Homo sapiens: one gene and its partners. The main gene of each other region encodes a partner of the protein of the gene in region 4 in a complex. Each region holds a gene or a part of one and is shown on either strand. Other genes may lie near its edges.

Evidence for each region.
Region 1: TAF4 (region 4) and TAF11 share a complex: the UniProt entries of both Homo sapiens proteins name them as parts of the TFIID basal transcription factor complex.
Region 2: TAF4 (region 4) and TAF3 share a complex: the UniProt entries of both Homo sapiens proteins name them as parts of the TFIID basal transcription factor complex.
Region 3: TAF4 (region 4) and TAF5 share a complex: the UniProt entries of both Homo sapiens proteins name them as parts of the TFIID basal transcription factor complex.

Annotation. Positions count from the first base shown.
Region 1 is NC_000006.12:34,878,043-34,885,042, forward strand, and holds part of TAF11 (transcription initiation factor TFIID subunit 11), read right to left. Parts: exon of another isoform or gene 5,396-7,000; coding exon of another isoform or gene 5,357-5,395; intron 5,039-5,356; coding exon 4,890-5,038; intron 2,335-4,889; coding exon 2,247-2,334; intron 2,022-2,246; coding exon 1,925-2,021; intron 679-1,924; coding exon 548-678; 3' UTR 1-547. UniProt on the Homo sapiens protein: The TFIID basal transcription factor complex plays a major role in the initiation of RNA polymerase II (Pol II)-dependent transcription.
Region 2 is NC_000010.11:8,003,505-8,010,504, reverse strand, and holds part of TAF3 (transcription initiation factor TFIID subunit 3), read right to left. Parts: intron 1,428-7,000; coding exon 1,175-1,427; intron 1-1,174. UniProt on the Homo sapiens protein: The TFIID basal transcription factor complex plays a major role in the initiation of RNA polymerase II (Pol II)-dependent transcription.
Region 3 is NC_000010.11:103,370,913-103,377,980, forward strand, and holds part of TAF5 (transcription initiation factor TFIID subunit 5), read left to right. Parts: intron 1-2,445; coding exon 2,446-2,683; intron 2,684-7,068. UniProt on the Homo sapiens protein: The TFIID basal transcription factor complex plays a major role in the initiation of RNA polymerase II (Pol II)-dependent transcription.
Region 4 is NC_000020.11:61,974,247-61,978,898, forward strand, and holds the end of TAF4 (transcription initiation factor TFIID subunit 4), read right to left. Parts: intron 2,090-4,652; coding exon 1,922-2,089; 3' UTR 552-1,921; downstream 1-551. UniProt on the Homo sapiens protein: The TFIID basal transcription factor complex plays a major role in the initiation of RNA polymerase II (Pol II)-dependent transcription.

The DNA of each region.
Region 1 (7,000 bases), on a different chromosome or scaffold from region 4:
AGTTCACGACCAGCCTGGGCAACAAAGCAAGACCCCATCTCCATAAAAAATAAAAATAAGTTAGCTGGGCACAGTAGTGTGTGCCTGTAGTCCTAGCTACTCAGGAGACTGAGGTGGGAGGGTCACTTAAGCCCAGGAGTTCAAGGCTGCAGTCATGCCGCTGCACTCCAGCCTAGGTGATAGAGCAAGACCCTATCTCAAACAAAACGAAACCAAAACAAAACAAAACTCTCTTGGAAAGGTTTTCTCTCTGAAAGCAGTTCCCCTGTCCAGAAGATGCTTATGGCCCACGTATCTTCTTCCAACTGGTCAAGACAGTTAAATACTTCAAAATGCCCCAAGAGGTCCCAAAATTTAGTCAAGGCAAGTATCAATCAGGCTACATACTTTCTAGGTGTGACAAATATCAGAGTTTTGAGAAAGACATTAAAATCATCATGGAATCCTTGGAGGCCTGAGATACTAAAGCACCAATGCAGACAGTCTTATAGGAAGTCTGGAACCAATACTTCTTCCGTCAGTAACATAGGCCTTTCTAGACTTTGGTCTAGAAGAAGATGATTTTTTTGTGCTTCGAGTTAGGGATCTGTCCTTTTGACTTTAACCTTCTAACGGCTTCCCTCATATGTTTGGGTTGTAGTGGTGGCATTTCTCCCCACTTCTCACACACATCCAGTGCTAAACAGAGGGTAAGGAGAAAGTCTGATTATCACACAATAATTTACTAATCACATAATCCTTTTGAGTCCTGTAATTCTTGTTAACTTTTCTTAAGCTTGCTAAGGAAATAAACAGACATTTTTCCTTTTTAAGAGAATATTAGTATAACGTCTCATAACAGGCTTTATCATAGACAACAGTTTAAAATATATTTCCTATAGGCCATATGCTGTGGCTCATGCCTATAATCCCAGCAGTTAGGGAGGCCAAGGTGGGAGGATTGCTTGAGCCTAGGAGTTCGAGACCAACCTGGGCAACATGGCCAAACCTTGTCTCTACAAAAAATTAAAAAGTTAGCCAGGGGTGGTGGTGCGCACCTGTGGTCTCAACTACTCAGACTGAGGCAGGAGAATCACCCGAGCCCAGGAGCTAACTGTTACAGTGAGCTGTGATCGCATGATCAAGGCACTCCAGCCTGGGTGACAGAGTGAGACCCTGTCTCAAATAACTACATAAAAATAAAATTAAAAATTAGCCAGGTATGGTAGTGCACGCCTACAGTCCCAGCTACTTGGGAGGCTGAGGCAAGAGGATCCTTTGAGCCCAGGAGTTTGAGGTTGTAGTGAGCTATGATCACACCACTGTTACCATCTCATTTTGTATACCATCTTAATTTGTGATTTGTAAAAGGAAAAATAAAAAATATTAAAAAAAATAATAAAGATCATGCCACTGCACTCCAGCCTGGGTGACAGAGTGAGACCCTGTCTCAAAAAATAATAATAATTTAAAAGTATATATCTCCTGCTCAAAAAAAAAAAAAAAATTTCACCAGCTAGAGTAGCAATGGGAAACAGCCAGGCTTTTTACTCAATAAAGGGGTCAGGCAGTTCCTAGGGATCACAACATTAGGGACAACTCACCATCCCACACAGGTCACCCCTGTGATTGCTTTTCTTGTATCTTTACTTTTGGCAGCAGAAATGAGCAAAGTCCACTGCAGAAAATACAAAGTCTACTTCTTTCACCCTGGGCTGAGGAAAGGAATCAGGGAGGGGATTTCCCAGATGGTTCCTTACCATCTGTTATTGAAACTTGCAAGGAATAACAGTCATGTTCTCCTAAATAAAGGGCTCCCCACTTGGTCAACTTCAAGTGCAAATGAGAACTCCCATAGGTGCTTTAATAAGCTCCTTTGTGTAGATATTCTTAAAAATAAGACCACCACAGGTACAATCCAGTATTTGTAACCAACACTACTCACCTTCTTCTACCACCTCCCCGACGAAAACCTTGGAAATACCAGACATAGCAATAACAACATTCTGAGACACAGAGGTGCCAGTGATGGACTGGATCAGCTTGAAAGAAGCACAAAGACTCCGTGATCACAATAGTCAAAGACTGGCTTTGGAACACAGTACCAAGTAATTCACAGAAAAAGGTAAGATAACTGAAGTGCATTTTTTTTCCCACCTAAATAATCCCCTGACTTGTCTAACACCTCACTTCAAATGCCAATGGACATGGCTCTTGAGTTCAGTTCTAAAACGTGATGGAGATGAAGTGTGGTGGTCCATCCTTACCCTTTTGATGGCTGCCTTAGGGAAAGCTGAGCGGCGATACATTTCATAACGGTTCAGCTGCTCCTCAGAAAAAGAAGAAACCAGGATTCTAAACAAAGATCCAGGTAACTAAGTTAACTTATAAGAACGAATACTCAAGATATTATGAAGTCAATAAAAGTTTCAGACAATTCAAAAACGAATTCTTAAAGGGGTCAATGGCATTAGGCTTGGTGCCTTGAGGAATGAAGATAAAACACTTCTACTCCAAAGGAATTTGAGAAAACGTAAAACAAAAACTTCTTTTCTTACCTGTTAACAAAAAGAACAACACTGGGTCACTGTATCGTACTACACAGACTGTTTGCAGCATTAGACACTATCTCCATAACTCTATCTTATTGAATTTCACACTGATGGTAAAAATTTAATATACAAATTTATAATCAAACCAGTAGTTTTCAACATTAACAGATTTAGGGGAAATATCTGCAAAATATGTGGAAACAGTTAATACTCCTAATGTATAATTCTTTCAAATGAATAAAGGGGCCATGTCAATTTTTGAAAATGAACAAAGTACATGAACAGGAAATTTACCAAAATACCAATGGTCAATCAACATGGGGGAAACAACCTTCATTATTAACTAAGGAAATATTATTTTCATAGATAACATTTTTCATAAATCAGACCACTATTAAAAAAAGAATGGTATTAGAATATGGGACACAAACACATGCTGGCAGAGTGAACTGGAACACCTTTTTGGAGAGAAATTTGGAAATACATATGAAAAGCCTTTGAAAATGTTCATACTATTTGAATTAGCAATTACACCTCTAGGAGTTTATCTTAGGAAGTAATGGACAAGTATGCAAAGATATGTCCAAAGATCCTCATCATAATGTCAAAAGTAAAAATACCCAACCAGAAGCACTATAGGGATTGGTTAAATTATAGTTCAACAACATAATGGGATACAATGTAGCCATTAAAAATTATGATTTATGAGCATATTTACTGACATGAAAATATTTAGCTATACATATCAAACATCTAAAAAAACTTTGAAAAGGTACATACCCAAACATTATACCCAACTATATACTTAGAGTGAACTCTGCGTGGTGAGTTTATGGGTGATTTTTTTCTATTTTTCTGTATTCTCTGAATTATTTGCAATGAGCCCATACTACTTTTACAATCAGAAAATGTAATAAAGCTATTTCTATTTTTAAGAAAACTATGACCTAGATGTATAATTAGTGACATGGAAAACATTCACCATATCTAATGTGAAAAATAGGCTACAAAACAGTATTTGACATTTGTGGAAAAAAAAATTTATAGATATATATGTATAGAAACTATCTTGAAACTTATAAGCAGGATATATCTCTGTGGTAAGGTAATTATTTTTTCTTCTTATCTATTTATTTTTTTTGAGACAGCATCTGGCTCTATCGCCCAGGCTGGAGTGCAGTGGCGCAGTCTTGGCTCACTGCAACCTCTGCCTCCTGGGTTCAAGTAATTCTCCTACCTCAGCCTCCCGAGTAGCTGGGACTACAGGCACCCACCACGACACCTGGCTAATTTTTTGTAATTTTAGTAGAGACGGGGTTTCACCATGTTGGCCAGGCTGGTCTCAAACTCCTGACCTCAAGTGATCCACCCGCCTCAGCCTCCCAAAGTGCTGGGATTACAGGTGTGAGCCACCGATCTCGGCCTTCTTTTTATCTATTTATATTTTCTATGCTGTAACATAATTATTTGAAAAAATTGTTTTTGGCCAGGCACAGTGGCTCACACCTGTAATCCCAGCATTTTGGGAGGCTGAGGCGGGCGGATCACGAAGTCAGGAGTTCGAGACCCGCCTGGCCAACATGGCAAAAACCTGTATCTACTAAAAATACAAAAATTAGCCAGGCATGGTGGCAGGAGCCTGTAGTCCCAGCTACCTGGGAGGCTGAGGCAGGAGAATCGCTCGAAACCAGAAGGCGGAGGTTGCAGTGAGCAGAGATTGCACCACCGCACTCCAGCCTGAGCAACGAGAGCGAAACTCTGTCTCAAAAAAAAAAAATTTTAAATAGAGGCCGGGCACAGTGGCTCATGCCTGTAATCCTAGCACTTTGGGAGGCCGAGGCGGGCAGATCACGTGAGGTCATGAGTTCAAGACCAGCCTGGCCAACATAGTGAAACCCTGTCTCTACTAAAAATACAAAAATTAGCTGGGCATGGCGGTGCATGCCTGTAGTCCCAGCTACTCGGGAGGCTGAGGCATGAGAATCGTTTGAACTCAGGATGTGGAGGCTGCAGTGAGCCGAGATCACACCATTGCACTCCAGCCTGGGCGACACAGTGAGACTCTATCTCAAAAAAATAAAAAATAAAAAAAAAAACATAACATAACATAACATTAGAGAAAGGGTTTCACTATGTTGCCCAGGCTGGTCTCAAACTTAGGCCTCAAGAAATCCTCCCACCTTGGCCTTCTAAAGTGTTGGGATTACAGGCGTGAGCCACCATGCCCAGCCATAATGTATTAATCGTTTTATTTTCTTTTGAGTTTATAAAAGAAAATTTAAACACCAAGAAAAATTTATTAAATTTGTGTGGTCAAGTGAGAGCCTCGAAATGGGGAATGATAAGAAAGTGACTTACTGCATCTTCTGAATCTCATCTTCATCTACTTTCTGCTTTTTCTCTTTCTTTTCTTTGGTATCTATTTTCAGTTTTTTGGCTGCAGGATTAAGTAATGATGAGTCTTCCCTTTCAACTGTTGTTAAATCTGAGACATCCTGACTCTCGAGCTGGGAAGATGAAAGAAACTCTATTATATATTTGGCCTACTTTCCAGGCTTGGGCAAAGTAAGAAGACATCATCCTTATCACAAAACAACAAATCCATTTATTGAGTAGTTTTTCAGTTCTAGGCACTGACTGTACCATCAAGGATAAGATACAGTATCTCTCCTAAGGGAAGATTATGGCTCAGCTATGGAAAGAAAACCTGCTAAATAATCTAGTTTTCCAGTTTGGCTATGAGCACAGCTCCAGTATCTGTTTACAAGGGTAATGAAATGCCATGGATCATGAAAATCACCCTCCCCCGGGCCCACTCTTCTGACCTTATTTTTCAGAGGGGATGTCAGCAAAGTCCCCTCCATCCAGCCAGCTCTTCTGCTTCCAGATCTATAGATCTCTTTACTGCTGATGATTCCACATGGAAAGAATATTAAAAAGGAGGCCCCTTCTCATCAAAACAGTGTTTATTTCAATTTGGGACTTTCAAGTGAGCTTCTCACACGTAGTGCTCTTTTGTTCTTATTCTTCAATCCTACTGTTTCATGCAAATGTTTATTTCACATTACTAGTCTTTTTGAAGATAGGTTTGTCTCTTATTATTTATATCTCCCCCCCATCAGCATTTAATGCAATTTTACTTATGCTGGATGTTTAATAAATGCCTGTTCAAACCCCACTTAAAAGTAGGCAAAGACACTTCTCAAAACAAGACATACCTGTGGCCAACAATCATGTGAAAAAAAGGTCAGCTTCACTGATTAGAGAAATGCAAATCAAAACCATAATGAGATACCATCTCATATCAGTCAGAATGGCTATTATTCAAAAGTCAAAAAATAACAGATACTGGCAAGGTTGTGGAGGCAAAGGAAAGCTTTTAAACTCTTGGTTGGAGTATAAATCAGTTCACCATTGAGGAAGGCAGTGTGACAATTCCTCAAAGACCTAAAGACAGAATTACCATTTGACCCAGCAATCCCATTACTGGGTATATACCCAAAGGAATATAAATTGTTCTATTATAAAGACACATCCACACTTATGTTCATTGCAGTGCTATTCACAATAGCAAAGACATGGAATCAACCTAAATGCCCATCAATGGTAGACTGGATAAAGAAAATGTATTTTCCAGTATACACCATGAAATACTATACAGCCATAAAAAAGGAGATCATGTCCTTTGCAGGGACATGGATGGAGCTGGAGACCATTATCTTTAGCAAACTAATGTAGGAACAGAAAACCAAATACTGCATGTTCTCACTAATAAGTGGGAACTAAATGATGACAGCACACGGACACATAGAGGGGAACACACACTGGGGTATATGGAAGGGTGAAGGGTATATGGAAGGATGAAGGGTGGCAGGAGGGAAAGGATCAGGAAAAATAACTAAGGGACACTAGGCTTAATACCTGGGTGATGAAATAATCTATACAACAAACCCCTATGACACACATTTACTTATGTAACAAAACCTGCACATCCTGCACATGTACCCCTGAACTTAAAAAACTGGCTGTTTAATAATAAAAATCAAATCCAAACTTCACCCCCTCTGACTTAATGTAGAATCTTAAGTATACTACAAAACTCATTAATGAGATTTAACTTGTCCCTAAAGAGGAATTCAAATTTAAACTCATACAGGAATATGGGAATAGGTGGGATGAAGGTAGTCTATCTTTGACAATCTTTTCAATTTCTTTTTAGTTACTGATTTATACAAGTTTTCTAACTGTGCTTCAAGTTTGGTGGTTTGTATTTTCCTTTAAAAAATCACCTATTTTTCTCAGATTTTCACATTTATTTGGCCTAAACTTGAACATTAAATGTCTTTATAACTTTAAAGATCTCCATATTAGTGCCTATAGCCTTTCATATTTTGTAATGTTATACATTTACATTTTAAATAATGTTTTAATTTTATCATTTATGTTTTTTAATGTGCTAATTCATTAGT
Region 2 (7,000 bases), on a different chromosome or scaffold from region 4:
CTATTATTCAGAAACACTACCTGGCTCATAATATCAGTGTACATTCTATAAATTATACTCTTAAGTGAATAACTGAATTGCTTGATCAAGAAATTCAATGTGAGATTTCAGTACCACCATGCGTCTCTACATTTACAGATTGATATTACTGTATATATGCATATAGTCATATCCCAAAACAATATAAAAACAAGCTTTGATATGATTTATGGAGGCTGACTATGTGAACATTGTGATGTAACTTTTCAGCCAAAAGCTTGAAAATGCAGTGAAAAACTGCAATGAAGAAATGCATCTTGGCTGGGCATGGTTGTTCATGCCTGTCATCTCAGCACGTTGGGAGGCAGAAATGGGTGGATTGCTGGAGCTCAGGAGCTCAAGACCAGCCTGGGCAACATAGTGAAACCCTGTCTCCACCAAAAATACAAAAAACTAATCGAGAGTGGTGGTGACTGCCTGTGATCCCAGCTACTCAAGAGGTGGGAGGATCGCTTGAGCCTGGGAGGCAGGGGCTGCAGTGAGCCGAGATCGTACCACTGCACTCCAGCCTCGGTGACAGAGTGAAATCCCCTTTCAAAAAAAAAAAGCCGGGCACGGTGGCTCATGCCTGTAATCCCACACTTTGGGAGGCCGAGGCGGGTGGATCACCTTAGGTCAGGAGTTTGAGACCAGCCTGGCTAACACGGTGAAACCGTTTCTACTAAAAATACAAAAAATTGGCCAGGTGTGGTGGCACGTGCCTGTAATCCCAGCTACTCAGGAGGCTGAGGCAGGAGAATCGCTTGAACCTGGGAGGTGGAGGTTGCAGTGAGCTGAGATCTCACCACCGCATTCCAGGTTGGGCAATAAGAGCGAAACTCTGTCTCAAAAAAAAAAAAGAAAAAAAAAGAAACGTGTCTGGCCAGGGGCAGTGGCTCAGGCCTGTAACCCCACCACTTTGAGAAGCTAATGCAGGAGGATCGCTTGGGCCCAGGAGTTTGAGGTTGCAGTGAGCTATGATTGGGCCACTGTACTCCAGCCTGAGCCACACAGGGAGACCCTGTCTCAAAAATAATTAAGTAAATAATAAAATTTTGAAGAGAAATGCGTCTGAAATTCGATAGTGATTCAGAGCACACACTTGTCTCGATCTGAAAACGTCTCCATGCTAACCGCGCGGGCGGCAGGTACGCACCACGTAGGTGCTGACCGTCTCAGTCACCACGCTGCGCACGGGGGCTTTGGCACTGGCCCCGGAGGCGGCGGGACCCGGGGAGGGCAGCAGGGCAGGGCCCGCGGCGGCCTGGGCGAGCAGCGGCAGCGGCACGGGCGCAGGGCTGACGAGCATGGGGCCGGGGGCGGGCGCGGGGGCCGGCGGTGGGGTCTTCGGCCTGTTCTGCGAGGGCGCCGGCTTGGCCTCGGGGGCAGGGACCACCTTGCTGATGACACTGTCAACAAAAGAAGAGAAGGTAAAAGTCAAAACAGGATCATCATCGAACCAAACCCGTGCTTAAAAACATGATCGTAAAATAGCTTTTCTTCCAGTAGCGAAATACTTCAACGTCTAGAGGCAGCTCAAGAACTGAGTTCCAGGCCCTGCATGAAGTGGCCTCTCCACTTACTCAGACGAATTTTTCATTTTCCAAACTTCCCCTCAATGGCCAGACAGTTAGAAATTTCTAGCAACCAATACACATGCATTGTTCACAGAAATATGACTTCAATTGCCTGTTCCTGTGCTGGGGCAGAAGCTCTGACGGCTTCAGAGGTGGCGCTCCCCACCCCCACCTCTGCTGAGTCCTCGGGGGGGCCTGACAGGGGCTGCTCCTTCCACTGTGGCTCCAGCTGGAGAGGACCTGGAGCAGCCTGTGCTCCACACTGGAGATGGGCAAGAAAGACACATTTGCTGTTGGAAGCCCTTGAGATTTTTGGGTTGTTAATTACCATAAACCTAACCTGGCCTAAGCTGCTGGACAGAGCAGCTTAAAAAGAAAAAGTTTCTATTTCTCTCTTCTTAATTCCAATGTTTCTTCTTAATACTCTCAATGCCATTGTCAATAAAACTGTGAAGACTTTCTCACTTCTGGGTTTGGCTTTGATTGCCAGGTTTTAAAGATTGACCGTTCAGGCTGGGCAAGGTGGCTCACCCCTGTAATCCTAGCACTCTGGGAGGCCGAGGTGGGTGGATTACCTGAGGTCGAGAGTTCAAGACCAGCCTGGCCAACATGGTGAAACACCGTCTCTACTAAAAAATACAAAAAATTAGCCGGGTGCAGTGGCGTGCACCTGTAATTCCAGCTACTCAGGAGGCTGAGGCAGGAGAATCGCTTGAACCCAGGAGGCAGAGGTTACAGTGAGCCGAGATCTCGCCACTGCACTCTAGCTTGGGCTACAGAGTGAGACTTCGTCTCAAAAAAAAAAAAAAAAAAAAAAGATTGTTCCCAGACGGGCTGCAGAGGTAAGGAGGAGGTAATGCAGCGGCAGCTTCTGTCCTGGTGATGCTGCCGCAGGTCGCTAGAGCTGTGGTACTGTGACCCTGCTCCTCCACTAACAGCATCCTCTTCACACAACTCTCGCCAGTGGAAGCAGCTCTGGACTTGGGGCCAGGACATCTGAGTTCAAATTCTACAGCCGCCAGAGACTAGACCTGTGGCCTTGGATTACTCAATTTATTATAAAAAGCACTATTTATTGAGGACCTATAAGAAGTTAGAGGTTATACTAGGCACTTTACAAACATCATCTCATCCAGTCCTTATGAGAACATCAAAGAAGTAATGATTACCCCATTTTGTAGATGAGGAAACTGAAGATCAGCAAGAGAAAGGAATTTGAGTAAACGGGTGGCAGCTTTTGAACCAAAGTCTACTTGATTCCAAAGCTTGTTTTTAAGCTTCTTTATTAAAAAAAAAAGGTATATATATATATATATATATATATATATATATATATATATATATATAATTTCACACACAGAGAAAACAATATAACAGACAGTTAGGTAATAATCAGAGATAAAATATGTTAGCCTTTGCCATATTTGTTTCAGATGAACTTCCTTCCCTGCCCCAGAGCAACCACTGCCCTAAGACAGGTATGTTTTTGTTTATTGTTCTTGGTACTTTGTTTTTTTCTCTGTACCTTTCCTGCCTTTGTAGGTGTCCATAAACAATACATACTGCATTACTGTTTGCTGTCTTTTAACTTTTATACACACAATGTCACACTCCAGTTGTCCTCTGCAACTAGCTTTTCCCACTTAGTTTTATGTCTCCTGATTTATCCATGCTGACACATAGAGATCTATATTATTTATTCTAATTACTATATTGTATTCCATGGTATTAGTAAGCCAAAGGTTTTTGTCCATCATCCTACTGAAAGTAGGAGACATTCACTTGTAAACTTACACACTGACTCATAAATAGAACTGTTCAAGGACTTCTCCAAGCCCCATCCCTAGAAATGAAGTTTCTGGGCCATGGAATATGGCCATCCTCACCTCACCAGGAATTGCCAGCCTGTGGACTGTCCCAGCTTGTCTCTTTCTACTATTCCACACAATTCTTTAGGCCTTGTTTTTCTCAGCAACAAAGTGAAAAGAAATGCAGTGGCCTCAGAGGGTTGTAGTGAGAACCTCAATGTGGAGAAACACTTCAAAAACTGCATCCAGATGGGAACTGCCGGCCCCGTGCCATGTTCACGGCTGTTGCTCACGACAGCCTCTGGCCTCATTGCTGCCAGCCTTCACGGTTCCACTTCCTCATAGTCCTAGTTTAGAAACCACTTTCACCAAAAGGCACTGACTCTTTGCTATTCTGATCATAAATTCATAAAACATTAAGTTACTTCAAAAACTTCACCATTATTTCAGCAAGTAACTTCATTACTGCTGTCGAATTGTTCTCTATTTGTTTCCTGCAAGGGTGATCATCTTCCTAACTTGGATACAGCCAAAGATCAAGAGACTTTAGCACAGGCTTGTTGGTGCAGCAGACACTTCATAAATGCTTAACATCATAACCGATGAATATTTATTGAGCACTTTCTATATGTCTGACTGTCCTAAGCACTTGAAAGCCAATTGTGGGCCAGGCACCACTGTGTTAAATATTTACTTGCCTTGCCTTATCTAGGTTTTTTTTTTTTGAGATGGAGTTTCACTCTTGTTGCCTAGGCTGGAGTGTAATGGCGCAGTCTTGACTCACTGCAACCTCCGCCTCCTGGGTTCAAGTGATTCTCCCGCCTTAGCCTCCCAAGTAGCTGGGATTACAGGCATGCACCACCACGCCCAGCTAATTTGTGTGTGTGTGTGTGTGTGTGTGTGTGTGTGTGTGTGTGTGTGTATTTTTTTTTTCAGTAGAGACGGGGTTTCTCCATGTTGGGCAGGCTGGTCTCAAACTCCCGACTTCAGGTCATCTGCCCACCTCAGCCTCCCAAAGTGCTGAGATTACAGGCGTAAGCCACGGTGCCCGGCCTTGTTTGTTTTTCATAATGACCACATGAGGCAAGCTATTATTCTGCTTTTTAAACGAAGAAACCAAGGCACAGAGAGATTACGTATCTTGCATAAATTAACACAGGTTACTACTACATGGCAGGGCCAGGATTTAAACAAGGCAGTCTGATTTTAGAGCCTGTGATCTTAATAAGTATATGACACTGTCTCTCAATGTGTACTGAGGTTTGCCTTACATAAAAGGCATGTAATGTAGGAGTTCAAAGTTATCGCTATGGCATTTATATCCAGAGGGTAAGCATTCTCTATTTTTATGGTTAGACTAAAATTTTAAAACACTGCTTCTAGAGGCAGTTTCCCATACTGGTTGAACACACAAGTGATGGAACCAAAGCTAAAGGGAAAAGCAGGAACCCTGAGAGGTAAGCAGAACACAGATGCTTTACCCCAAGGGCATTTACGCATTAGGCAAGTCTGATATTTGGTTATGATGAAGAGGACGAATGTCAAAGCCCAGGATCTGCCCGAAGTGGAAGGTGTAATAGAACTCCCTCCCGACACTAAGGATTCCCAATGGGCTATACCCATAAGGTAAAGATGCACGAGAATGGCATGAATTTTCACCTCTGGTGTTCTAGGATACTTTAAAGTAATTTGGACTTGCAATGTGCCCAGGCACACAGCACAATCCTGAGGGGAAGTATCTTAAAATCTAGGTCTCATATTAATACAGATAATTATCTTTAAAAAAAATAAGCAGCACATAATCAAAGATAATCAAATCTATGAGGAAGTAAGGTGGGATCAGGGAAAACTGTTAAGAAATAACAGCTAGTATGAAGAGACAAAGACCACAGATACAAGAATTATCAACTATAAAACAACTTTGCTTACAATGTTAAAAAAATAATAAAAGGCAAAGGCTAGAAATATAGGTCGTAGGAAGTCACAGAGAGTGACTTGATCTAGTGGATTTGAAAAGAACCAAACAGACCTTCTAGAAATTAAAAAATACAGTAACTGAGATTTAAAATTGAAAGGAGGGATTTAACAACAGATTGGAAACAAGACAGAACTATAAACTGAGTATTAGGACAAAATAAATTTTCAGAGCATAGCCTAAGAAGCAAAGAGAATACAATAAAAGGTCTAATTAGTGCATGTTTGATCATAATTCTAGAAGAAAAATGGGGCAGAGACGAATGTTAACAAAGAGTACCTGAGACTTTTACAGAACTGACGAAAGATACCAATCCACAGATTTATGAAGCCCAACACACCCTAGGCAAGATAAATAAAAATAAATCTATATCTAGGCACATCAAAGTGAAGCTATAAAATATCATAGATAGAGAGGAAAAATCTGAAAGGCAGCTAGAGGGAAAAAAGAACAATTCCTCTCAAAGAAGAAACAGGTGACAGCTGACTTCTTAATTAGCAATGATGAAATCTAGAAGATAGTGGAATAACATCTTCAATGTGCTAAAGAAAAATAAATTATGTCTTTGAAAACATCTTTAAGGAATAAAGATGAAACAAAAACATTTACAGGCAGGCAAAAGCTAAGAATTTGCCACCAGCACATTTAAAAAAAAAAATTCTAAAGCAACAATTCTCAAATTTTTCGTCCTAGGGCCCCTTTAAATTCCTAAAAATTATTAAGAACTTAAAAAATGTGCACTATATCTGTCAATATTTACCATATTAAAAATAAAACTGGACCAGGCACATTGGCTCATGCCCGTAATCCCAGCACTTTGGGAGGCCGAGGTGGGTGGATCGCTTGAGGCCAGGAGTGATTCACCATGGCCAACATGGTGAAACCCCATTTCTATTAAAAATACAAAAATTAGCTGGGTGTGATGGCGCAGACCTGTAATCCCAGCTACTCCAGAGGAGGAGGCAGGAGAATCACTCAAACCTGGGAGGCAGAGGTTGCAGTGGGCCGTGATCATGCCACTGCACTCCAGCCTGGGTGACAGAGCAAGAATCGGTCTCAAAAAAAATAAATAAAATAAAATAAAAATAAAACTGAAAAGTTTAAAAATATTTAGTAATTCATTTAAAAGTAACGACAATGAACCCATTATATGTTAACAGATAACATTTTTTTTTATGAAAATAACTATATTTTCCAAGACAAAAAACTTGGTAATGACTGGCAATGTTTTGGTTGTTTTTTCTTTGATAATGGCGTCTTGCTCTGTTGCCCAGGGTGGTCTTGAACTCCTGGGCTCAAGCAATCCTCCTGCCTCAGCCTACCTAATAGCTGGGATTACAGGCGCATGCCACTGTGCCTGGCCAAGACTGGCAATGTTTTAAATTTTTGCAAATCTCTTTAATGTAGGCATATGTAACTAGAGAAGGGAGGAGTATTTTAAAAGATTTTTTGGATAATGGTGTAAGTTCTTCTTTAATGCTGCATTAAATGCAACAAATGATAGTTTCTTATAAGTTGGTTGCAATGTGTAATCTGAAATCATATCAACAGACATTCATATTCTGTTACATTAAAATTTATTGCTCTGTTTAGCACTATGAACACAAAATTTACCCATGCAT
Region 3 (7,068 bases), on a different chromosome or scaffold from region 4:
ACCTCATTGTAATCCGTAAATAGAAATGTGTGCAGATGTGATTGAAGGCCGGGCTCGGTGGCTCACGCCTGTAGTCCCAGCACTTTGGGAGGCCAAGGCGGGTGGGTCACTTGAGGTCAGGAGATCAAGACCAGCTTGGCCAACATGGTGAAACCCCATCTCTACTAAAAATACAAAAAAATTAGCTGGGCGTGGTGGCATGTGCCTGTTGCCCCAGCTACTCAGGAGGCTGAGGCAGGTGAACCACTTTAACCCAGGCGGCAGAAGTTGCAGTGAGCTGAGATCAAGCCATTGTGCTCTGGCACGGGTGACAGAGCAAAACTCCGTCTTTACAAAAAAAAAAAAAAAGAGAGAGGAATCTTTTTTGAATGTTGAATTTTGTGAATGAACTATAAGATGAATTATATTGTTGGTTATTTTGCTGTAATCTCAGATCTCTTCAGAAACTTGACCTAATTATAGATCATAACTGAGAAATCAGTAAGGAGGAAAAGAGGCCATCAGAGTAACCAAAGAAATTATCACATTTCTGCAGTAAAGAGCAAAGTGTACTATAATGGCAACTTACAGAAATTTCCAACAACCAAATTCTGATTTAATTGACAGATTAATTGACTGATTTAATTGACAGATGTATTGTTAGGTGGTGCTGTATTACCAATAAATACTTACGTTTTCTGTTTTGAAGTGGTGGTTATGGAAATTGTCTTAAGCATATAACTATCTTTTGAAGATATAAATAAGGCATGGTCCTTCCCACCCTTAAGTACTTACATTTTGTAAGGGGTAAGAGATGTATATAATGTGAAGGGAACACAGGATAGGATATGTTACAAGAATGTTACACAGTGCTTGGGTGGCCCAGAGAGCTGGGAATGTTACTGCAGTGCATGGCTTGGTCGTGGTGGGTGCCATTTGCACAGAGCATTGAGAGAAAGTTAATGTAGTTGTTTGATTTGCACATATCTTTTATACAATTTGTCTTTAACATCAGGTAGTTCCAGGAGAAATACTGACTCCTTGTTATTGTTTTTTTTTTTTTTGAGACGGAGTCTTGCTCTGTCACCAGGCTGGAGTGCAGTGGAGCGATCTTGGCTCACTACAACCTCTGCCTCCTGGGTTCAAGTGATTCTCATGCCTTTGCCTCCCGAGTAGCTGGGATTACAGGCACGTCTCATCACACCCAGCTAATTTTTGTATTTTTAGTAGAGACGGGGTTTCACTATGTTGGCCAGGCTGGTCTTGAACTTCTGACCTTGTGATCTGCCCGCCTCAGCCTCTCAAAGTGCTGGGATTACAGGTGTGAGCCACCGTGTTGGCCTGTTATTGTTATCTTAAGATATGGGTGTGCTGATGGGTTTCGGTTTGGGTGATGAAACAAGTGAAAAAAATTCCATTAAAAGATTATGGCTGGGCGCGGTGGCTCGTACTTTTTTTTTTGAGATGGAGTCTTGCTCTGTCGCCCAGGCTGGAGTGCAGTGGCGCGATCTCGGCTCACTGCATCCTCCACCTCCCGAGTTCATGCCATTCTCCTGCCTCAGCCTCCCGAGTAGCTGGGACTACAGGCGCCCACTACCACGCCTGGCTAATTTTTTGTGTTTTTAGTAGAGACGGGGTTTCACTGTGTTAGCCAGGATGGCCTCGATCTCCTGACCTCGTGATCCACCTGTCTCAGCCTCCCAAAGTGCTGGGATTACAGGCGGGAGCCACCGCACCCGGCGGCTCATACTCGTAATCCCAGCACTTTGGGAGGCAGGTGGATCACTTGTGGTCAGGAGTTTGAGACTAGCCTGGTCAACATAGTGAAACCCCGTCTCTACTAAAAATACAAAAATTAGCTGGGCATAGTGGTGCATGCCTGTAATCCCAGCTACTTAGGAGGCTGAGGCAGGAGAATCGCTTGAACCCGAGATGGGGAGGTTGCAGTGAGCCGAGATTGTGCATTGCACTACAGCCTGGGCGACAAGAGTGAAACTCCATCTTAAAAAGAAAAAAAAAAAAGACTACGTGGGCCAGGTGTGGTGCCTCATGCCTGTAATTCCAACACTTTGGGAGGCCGAGGCGGGAGGATCACAAGGTCAAGATATCAAGACCATCCTGGCCAACATGGTGAAACCCTGTCTCTACTGAAAATATGAAAATTAGCTGGGCATGGTGGCACACGCTTGTAGTCCCAGCTACTTGGGAGGCCGAGGCAAGACACTCGCCTGCGAGGTGGAGGTTGCAGTGAGCCGAGATCTCCCCACCGCCCTCCAGCCTGGCGACAGAGCCAGACTCCCTCTCAAAAAAAAAAAAAAAAGATTATGTGATTGTGTTGAGGAAGAGACAGTGGGAAGAAAGAGACAACAGTCTGAGAAACAACTCACCTGTGGGCTTTAACAATACAGCCATAGTCACATGGTCATAATAGGTCATTTTCTTAAAAGTTTTTTGTTTTTTAAATAGTTGGAAGTGTTGCTGTGGAAGACCAGCCAGATGTCAGTGCCGTGTTGTCAGCCTACAACCAACAAGGAGATCCCACAATGTATGAAGAATACTATAGTGGACTGAAACACTTCATTGAATGTTCCCTGGACTGCCATCGGGCAGAGTTGTCCCAACTTTTTTATCCTCTGTTTGTGCACATGTACTTGGAGCTAGTCTACAATCAACATGAGAATGAAGCAAAGTCATTCTTTGAGAAGTATGTAAATTTTTACATATATATATATACACACATACGTAGTGTGTGTGTGTGCGTGCATATGTTTTCACATCTGTAACCACAAAAATGTAAGACTGCAACTTAAAAAGTACGTTGTGAAGGAGAGGTACCTGAGGCTATGAGAACTTAAAATGTGGGGTTTGATCTAGCTGGAGAAGTCAGAGAAGGCTTCCAGAGGAAATGATACTTGAAGTGAGATTTGAGATCTGAAGATTAGGTAGGAGTTAACCAGATGAAGAGAAGAGGGAAAAGCATGTGTAAAAGCTCTCTGGTGGGAAGGATCCTGGTAGGTACAGAGGCTGAAAGATGGCCAGGGTAGCTGGAGCAGAGAATGGGATGGGGGTGTGGTATACTATGAAGCTGGGAATTGGTTAGGGACTGGAACAGTAGGCAGGTTCTATTGTTAAAGTGAAGGCATTGAAAAAAAAGGATAGGCAGGTTTTTGGGCCATGTTGAGGGTCTTTGTTTATCCTAAGAGCAGTAGGGAGTTGTATTGGATAGGATTAGATTTGGTTGAGAGTCACTGAAAACTCATCAACAATGGCATAAATAAAAGTTTATTTTTGCCTTTATCTTAAGAAAACTAGGAAGCAGTGTTAGGATTCGATTAGAATAAGAGTAACTGAGAACCCAAACAACAGAGGTTTAAATACAATAAAAGTTTGTTTATTTTTCTCGTAAATGTGGGACATTCGGGATTGGTGTGGTGGGTTCTTCATTACCAGGGCCCCAAGCTCCCTCGGTCTTGTTGCTCTCTCATGCTTTTCATGCAATTTCCACCTTGTGGCATAAGATGGTTTTCCTGCTCTAAGCAGTCACATCAGTGTGCCAGTCAGCAGGTAGGGCACACGGAAACTGCACACACTTCTTCCTTTTATATCTTAACAGTCAGTGGCCACACCTAGCTACAAGGGAAATAAGAAATGTAGTCTTTACCTAAGTGTCTATGTGCCCAGCTGATATTCAGGTTTTCTTTTATGGAGGAAGACAGGAAAAATGGATATTTGGGGAGAGCGAAGCCTTTTTGCTACAGAGTCATTTCTGCTACAGAGTCATTAAAGGACCATGTCGTTATTAGATATATACTTTGAAAGGACCTTTATGCAGTGGGGAAAACAAATGGGGGATAGAATGACTATAGGGACAAGTTTTGGAAGTTATTGCAGTGGTTCTCAACTGGAGGTGGAATTGCTCCTTCCACTAGACCATTTGAAAATGTGTAGAGGTGGCCCGGCGCTGCGGCTCACGCCTTTAATCCCAGCACTTTGGGAGGCTGAGGCGGGTGGATCACTTTGACCTCAGGAGTTTGAGACCAGCCTGGTGAGACCTAGTCTCTTCAAAAAAATGCAAAAATTAGCTGGGTGTGGTAGCTCACTCCTGTAATCCCAGCTATTTGGGAGGCTGAGGCTGGAGAATCGCTTGAACCTGGGAGATAGAGGTTGCAGTGAGCTGAGATTGCATCTCTGCACTCTAGCCTAGATGACAAGAGTGAGACCCTGTCTCAAAAAAAAAAAAAAAAAAAAAGAAAATGTGTGGAGGCATTTTTGGTTGTCATAATGACTGGGCGGAGGAGCAGGAATACTAAATGTTCTAATATGTGCACCTAGGTAGTCCCACTTTACAAAGAATTATCCTGCCCAAAATGTTAATAGCACCCTTATTGAGAAGCACTGGACTAGGTTGTGGTGGAGGTGAAGAGAAGTAGACAAAGTCATGAGACACTTGATAGATTGGCTAGGGAGGTGAGGGAGATGGAGATATCATTGAAATCTCCAGTTTTCTGGCCGTTCTAGCTGGATAGGGGAGCCAATTCCTGACACAGAAAACCCTAGAAGAGGACTTGATTTGTCAGCCTTGGAATAATTTTGAGTTCTGATTTGAATATGCCTTTGACTCATTTAAGAAATGTCAAGTTGATAGGTAGATGATATATGAGAGCTCAGAACAGAGGTAGGGACTAGAACTATTAATTGGAGTTGTGTGCAATATTGATGGATATGGATGAGGTTGACTAGGGGAGAGTATGAAATAAGTCAGTCAGTGGGCTAGGCCCAAGGAGCTCCAAATTTAATGGCCAAGTAGAAGAGATACACAGGAAGAAAACCAGGGGAGGGCTGAGTTATAGAAGCCAAGGGAAAGGAGTATTTAAGAAGGAGGCAGGCTGGGTGTGGTAGCTCATGCCTGTAATCCCAGCACTTTGGGAGGCTGAGGTGGGCAGATCACCTGAGGTCAGGAGTTTGAGACCAGCCTGGCCAACATAACAAAACCCTGTCTCTACTAAAAATACAAAAATTAGCCGGGCGTGGTGGCAGACACTTGTAATCCCAGCTGCTTGGGAGGCCGAGGCAGGAGAATCACTTGAATCTGGGAGGCAGAGGTTGCAGTGAGCTGAGATTGCGCCATTACACTCCAGCCTTGGCGAAGAGTGAAAGTCTATCTCAAAAAAAAAAAAAGGAGGCCGTGCTTAGCAGTGTGAATAATTTTTTTTTTTTGAGATGGAGTTTTGCTCTTGTCACCCAGGCTGGCATGCAGTGGCGCCATCTCGGCTCACTGCAACCTCCGCCTCCTAGGTTCAAGCAATTCTCCTGCCTCAGCCTCCCAAGTAGCTGGGATTACAGGCATGCATCACCATGCCTGGCTAATTTTGTATTTTTAGTAGAGACAGGGTTTCTTCATGTTGGTCAGGCTGGTCTTGAACTCCCGACCTCAGGTGATCTGCCCACCTTGGCCTTCCAAAGTGCTGGGATTACAGGTGTGAGACACTGGGCCTGGCCTGAATGAGAAATGTTTAATACAAGCAACAGAGCCTGAAGTCAAGATTTATCACTTAACACAGGGTAGTAGTAATAGAGGAACAGTAGAACTTAGCACCCCTGGCTTCTATGCCATTATAGTAAATTCATTATATTAGGATGCCTAATAGGAAGTATATAAGGCAAAATGTTCTGTAGCCAAGTGCTTTTGAAAAAAAAAAAAATAAGAAAGGCTGATGACAGAACTTCTACCCTAGAAGCTAATTTCTCTTTAAAGTACTGTCATCTAAACACTCCATCCTTGGCAACATAGATACTGTCACTTAAAAAAACAAAAACATAGCCTGGGCAAAAGAACGAGATCCTGCTTCTACAAAAAGTAAACAAAAATTGAGCCGGGCATGGTGGCTCATGCCTGTAATCCCACACTTTGAGAAGCCAAGGCGGGCAGAATGCCTGAGCTCAGGAGTTCGAGACCATCCTGGCCAACATGGTGAAACCCCATCTCTACTCAAATACAAAAGATTAGCCAGCCATGGTGGCACGTGCCTGTAGTCCCAGCTGCTCAGGAGGCTGAAGCATGAGAATTGCTTGAGCCCTGGAGGTGGAGGTTGCAGCGAGCTGAGATCGCGTAAACAAAAATTAGTGGAGTATGGTGGCACAGCAGTCCTAGCTACTCGGGAGACTGAGGCAAGAGGAATCCCTGAACCCAGGAGTTTCAGGCTGCATTGAACCACTGCACTCCAGCTTAGGCTTCAGAGCAAGAACCTGTCTCTAAAAAAGAAGGAAAAACCTTTTTGCTCTTCCTGTCTCATGGTGTAGCTGTCTCCCCACATAGGAAGCTGGAACGTCATAGGGGATTCTCTGTCTTCCCATTATGGACAGTCTCACCCCTTGCCAGGACCCCATCACCACAGGAGGATAATGGGCAGTTACTGATATAAGAGGCTGAGATTTCTAATTTTATTCAAATCTTAGATCATATATTGATGAGTTGTAATGGGGTAACATAGTTAACAGTTTAGAAATCTGTTGACTATGTGCTTATCAGAGCTGGAGCCCTAATATGTTTAGTCATTGTTTTAAAAATGTTTTTGCATTGATTGCTGTTTTTAGTGAATGCCAAATATATTGTCTTTAATTTTATTTTCTTAGGAAAATTAAGCGTTGTAAAAACAAAAGTACATTTAAGTTTACTAGTTGTTATCAAGGCTAAAGGCTTTATTTTATTGTCTTTGGTAATAGTTGTTGATACCAAACAATGAGTACTTCCACTTTGTTGTTTAGTGATCATATTAAAGTATTGATATTTTAAAAATGTCTGGTACATGTTTCCAATAAATATAGGAAATCATTAAAAATGATGGGTTTTATGAGAATGTTATATATTGATTATTGTTGAGATGCTGAGTACTGTGTACATTGAGTTCATTATACTCTTTTTTATGCCTTTGAAATTTTCATAATAAAACTTTTAAAAGTGGGTTTTGAGAAACCATAACATTTAGTAAAGCAAGGGTTCTTATATTTTCAAATGTCTACCAGTTTCTTTTAAATGTCTCCATTCTAAAGAAACTGTCTACCAATGGTGGGTATATTATTTTTCACTTA
Region 4 (4,652 bases):
GTCACAGTAGGTGGAGTGAACGTCACAATGGGAGACCAACTCCAATTGCATCAGAGACCGTTCCCAAAGGCTCTCCAAGGTGCTCGAAGGCAGGGAGCGGTACACATTGGCGCTGAGCCTCTGAGGGCCCAGCAGGAGCTGTGACCTGTCAGGACCAACCAATACCACAAACTGCCCTGGAGACGCCCTCTCTCGCCACAGGAGGTCTGCGTCAAGGCTGGGGCCCTCTGGGCACCTCAGCCGGGCTCGCCACGTGCGTTTCTGTGTACATCTCCCCCAGCACTGGGCCTCCCGCCGCCCCTCCTAGCTGTGCCCAGCTCATCTCCACCTGTGACAGCAGAAGGTGTTAAGCGCAGCCGCCAGCCCCCAGACTCCACGCAGAGAGTAGCTCGGCCCCTGTCCTCACAGAGAAAGTTCTTTCTCCCGGCTCTGATGGGGCTCAGCTACAGATTCCAACAGGTGGCTCAGAAACCAGCACCTCAGCAGAGCCGGAGTGCAATCTGGCAGTAGAATCTAAAACTGGAAAACGGAGGAAAAATAGGCAAAACAAATACAGATAAATTTGTTTTTAATAAAGGAGTTAATTTTCTTTCAATCCTATATAAAACAATAGCAATTAAAAACTTCATTTCTGAAAGTAAAATATTTACATATGAACAAGTAACTGTGCAAAATTTACATGAAAAAATGGAAAGACAGGGATTTCCTAAAAGACAAAATAAAAGGTGTAACAGTTCTCAGGTGTTGATAAAAAATACTGATCAGCGTTCAGTTCACACGCGCTCGAATTAAAGTCTAATGTGAGAATTCACACGGAGAAAGCCAGAGTATTTACAGTCATAAAAGTACTATCAATAGACAATTTCATACAATAACCTCTGAAAATAGAAAGAACCAATTAGTATATTTGTAATAAAAAAATAGGTACAAAGAAGGGGCTTTGCTCTGGACGTCTGTAAAGTCGGCCCAAGGCTTGCATACAGTCTCTTAGCAAAATAATTATAGTTTACATAGCCATTTCTATGTCATGTGCCAAAAGTTATGTACAATTACTGACAAAATACACCAACCATTTTTCAACACTTGATTCACACCGAGAAACAGTCTTTTGATGATTCTTCTCAACTTTGATTTTATTTAATCTAGGTTTTCACTTTTAGCTAAAAAACACAGTGCAAGTAAAATATATTTATGCTGAAAAGGTTTTCATCTCTTTTAACTTTACAGCTTTACAAACTATAGCAAATAAAATGCATTTGTACAGATGCTGACCACACATTCAGAAGGAGCCACCTTTGCTGGGCTCGGCCTCTACCAAGCAGAAATGCGATTACACTCTGAGGTGGGGGTGCAACGATGAATTGTGTATTCCTCCAGGATTCTCAGCGGAGTGGAGGGGAAGGGAGGGGAGGGGAGGGCAGGGGGCAGAGAGGAGAGCGGGGTGGGAGGGGAAGGGAAGGAAGATAAATAGTCTAAAAAATCAGTTTGCTTTGCCAACTGACTATTACAAAAATAAAATAAACGAAATGAGGTCATCGGCTGTAGACATACACCTACATAGTAAGTTAGGTAGAACTAAACCAAAATGCACAAATAATGCAGAAACTGCTATGAGTTGACAGAGGGCAGCTAATTATTTGCTAACGATTCCATCAGTCTTTATATATGGCTTGTTTGGCAGGAAGGCCACTCAATCAAGATGAGTTAAGATTTAATTGTCCTTTAAGAGTATCCACAGGCCTTTGTGTTCTCTCTGTTACAGAAACGTGTTTTCTTTCACACTGAAGAGCTGATTTAGAAACAGGAATATAAAACTGTTCCATTGTAAAGAGGTGGCTGTTTTTTAAACAATATCCCATTTGCTCGTTACAAAAAGGCGTAATCTGCAAATATATAAAAAGTCCCCAGGCGTCCTCCTGTGTCACTTAAGGAATGCTTTGTAGAGCAGCAGTGAATGGCTTGTCTCACGTTCATTTTCTAAACAAAATATGAGGTCCCTGAGGTTGACCCGCGTGATTCTTTGTCGCGTGAACTGTCTGGGGGTTCCGACACCCGAGCTGCCTGGGACCACTGAGCCGGGGCCCGACCCCTGGTGATGAAAAAGGAGAAGACAGTGTGTTAGTGGGGCTCAGAGTGGGGCTTGCAATGAGCCTGTGTATCTGAGCCAAGTACCCCGATTCCAGAGGAGGCCAGGCCTGGCACGGGCTCCTTCCGGTAGGCCCACAGCTGGAGCTGGGGTGCTGTCCAGGGCCCTGCCAGGGCAGGGGCAAGGGCAGGAGGCCCCATGCTGCACCTTCAGGACAGGGCACACTCAGATGCTGCCCAATGCCCCACAGTGCTTGGACCTGGTCCTGGGGCTGAGGATGGACTAGGGGGTGGCACCCACCCAAGGCAAATGGCTGAGCGGCCCCAGGGCCACCCTCCATGTGACCACAGCTGGACTGCCTGTGGACTCAGCTGGGGCACAAAAGCCACACTAGGTCTGTGTGTGTCATCCCCGCTTGGCTGCTGAATTCCTGCACTGGGAGGCCTGGGGTTGGCTGGGACTGGGCATGCTGGGTCAGCTGGGAAGGCTGGGTTTCTCAGTGGCTCCCACAGTGATCCCTGAGCCTCTGGCTGGGCCCTGGCTGCACAGACGCCGCCTCCGTCAGCCCCTACAGGTGACCAGGTGTCTCCCGAGCTGCCTCAGATGTGTTCCTGCTTGGAGAAGCATAGCTGCTGCGTGCCAGCTCCTGTGGAGAGCTCTGGCGGTTTCAGCTGATGACACCTGCATGACACCGCCCAGCAGGGCACGCGCCACACACACGACACCGCCCAGCGGGGCACACGCCACACACACGACACCGCCCAGCGGGGCACGCGCCACACACACGACACCGCCCAGCGGGGCACGCGCCACACACACGACACCGCCCAGCGGGGCACGAGCCACACACACGACACCGCCCAGCGGGGCGCGCGCCACACACACACAACACCGCCCAGCGGGGCGCGCACCACACACACACGACACCGCCCAGCGGGGCACGTGCCACACAACTCCCAACAGCTGTCATTTCCCCCAGCTGGCATGAAAACTAAGTTCTGCTCCGATGGTGAAAGCTGCTCACATATATTTAAGTACAAAGATTACGATGGCATCTTTACAGCACATTCTCAACCAAAGTTAAGATGCTGGAAGGAGCGGATTCTGCTGTGTGTGCCAGTGGGAGCCTTGCTGTGAACAGCCCTGACATGGCCCCGCCCCTCATGCCGTCCTTCCTCCCCCCTTCCCCGTTCTGCCACTTTCAGTTCAGGCTGGGAGCATGGCTGCCTTGTGTGATGGCATGCAAGTGTGTCTCTGACCCACTGCATTTTCTTTATTCCTGTGAGATTCAAACAGATGAGGGCACCTGTCTCCGTTCAGACGCCCTGCGCTGTGAGGGCCCTTCTTCAGACCTGCCCGGGGTCCCTTTGCTACTGAAGCCTCCGCACTCCACACTAGCTCATTATAAAGTGATCCGCACCTGAGGGCCAGGCCTCCCAAAAGAGAACTCAGGCGAGGTGAGTGACAGTTTGCAGGGTGAGGGCAGGGCTCTCACAGGCACCACCCAAACAGGCTGTGTGACCCAGTGACACCTGCTATAAATTCCGGACTGTGTTTGATGTTTCTATCTTCAAAATAGTTCAGCAGCTAAAAAAGAGGACCGGGGTGAAGGAGAGACGCTCATCTCAGGTGCTCAATTTAAAGGCTGCCGAGGGTAAGAAATCAAGATATTCTAACGCAAGTGTCAGCACCAACCAAGGGAGGGCACGAGACCAACCAAGGGAGGGCGCGACACCAACCAAGGGAGGGCGCGAGACCAACCAAGGGAGGGCGCGAGACCAACCAAGGGAGGGCGCGAGACCAACCAAGGGAGGGCGCGAGACCAACCAAGGGAGGGCGCGAGACCAACCAAGGGAGGGCGCGAGACCAACCAAGGGAGGGCGCGAGACCAACCAAGGGAGGGCGCGAGACCAACCAAGGGAGGGCGCGACACCAAGGGAGGGCGCGACACCAACCAAGGGAGGGCGCGACACCAACCAAGGGAGGGCGCGACACCAACCAAGGGAGGGCGCGACACCAACCAAGGGAGGGCGCGACACCAACCAAGGGAGGGCGCGACACCAACCAAGGGAGGGCGCGACACCAACCAAGGGAGGGGGCGAGACCAACCAAGGGAGGGCGCGACACCAACCAAGGGAGGGCGCGACACCAACCAAGGGAGGGCGCGACACCAACCAAGGGAGGGCGCGAGACCAACCAAGGCCGGGGGCGAGACCAACCAAAGGAGGGGGTGAGACCAACCAAGGCCGGGGGCGAGACCAACCAAAGGAGGGGGCGAGACCAACCAAGGCCGGGGGCAAGACGAACCAAGGCCGAGGGCGAGACCAACCAAGGCCGGGGGCGAGACCAACCAAGGCCGGGGGCGAGACCAACCAAGGGAGGGGGCGAGACCAACCAAGGCCAGACGGTGCCTCCTTGGGGCTGAGGCCACCCCCAGGGCCCAGCACGCTGAGAAACTGATGCCAGGCCCTGCTTCTGCACCAAGCTCTGAAGGTGCACTATGAATGAACAATATAACTTCTCCAGATTCTGTGAGTTTTATCAATACAAATTTTTCTTCAAATTT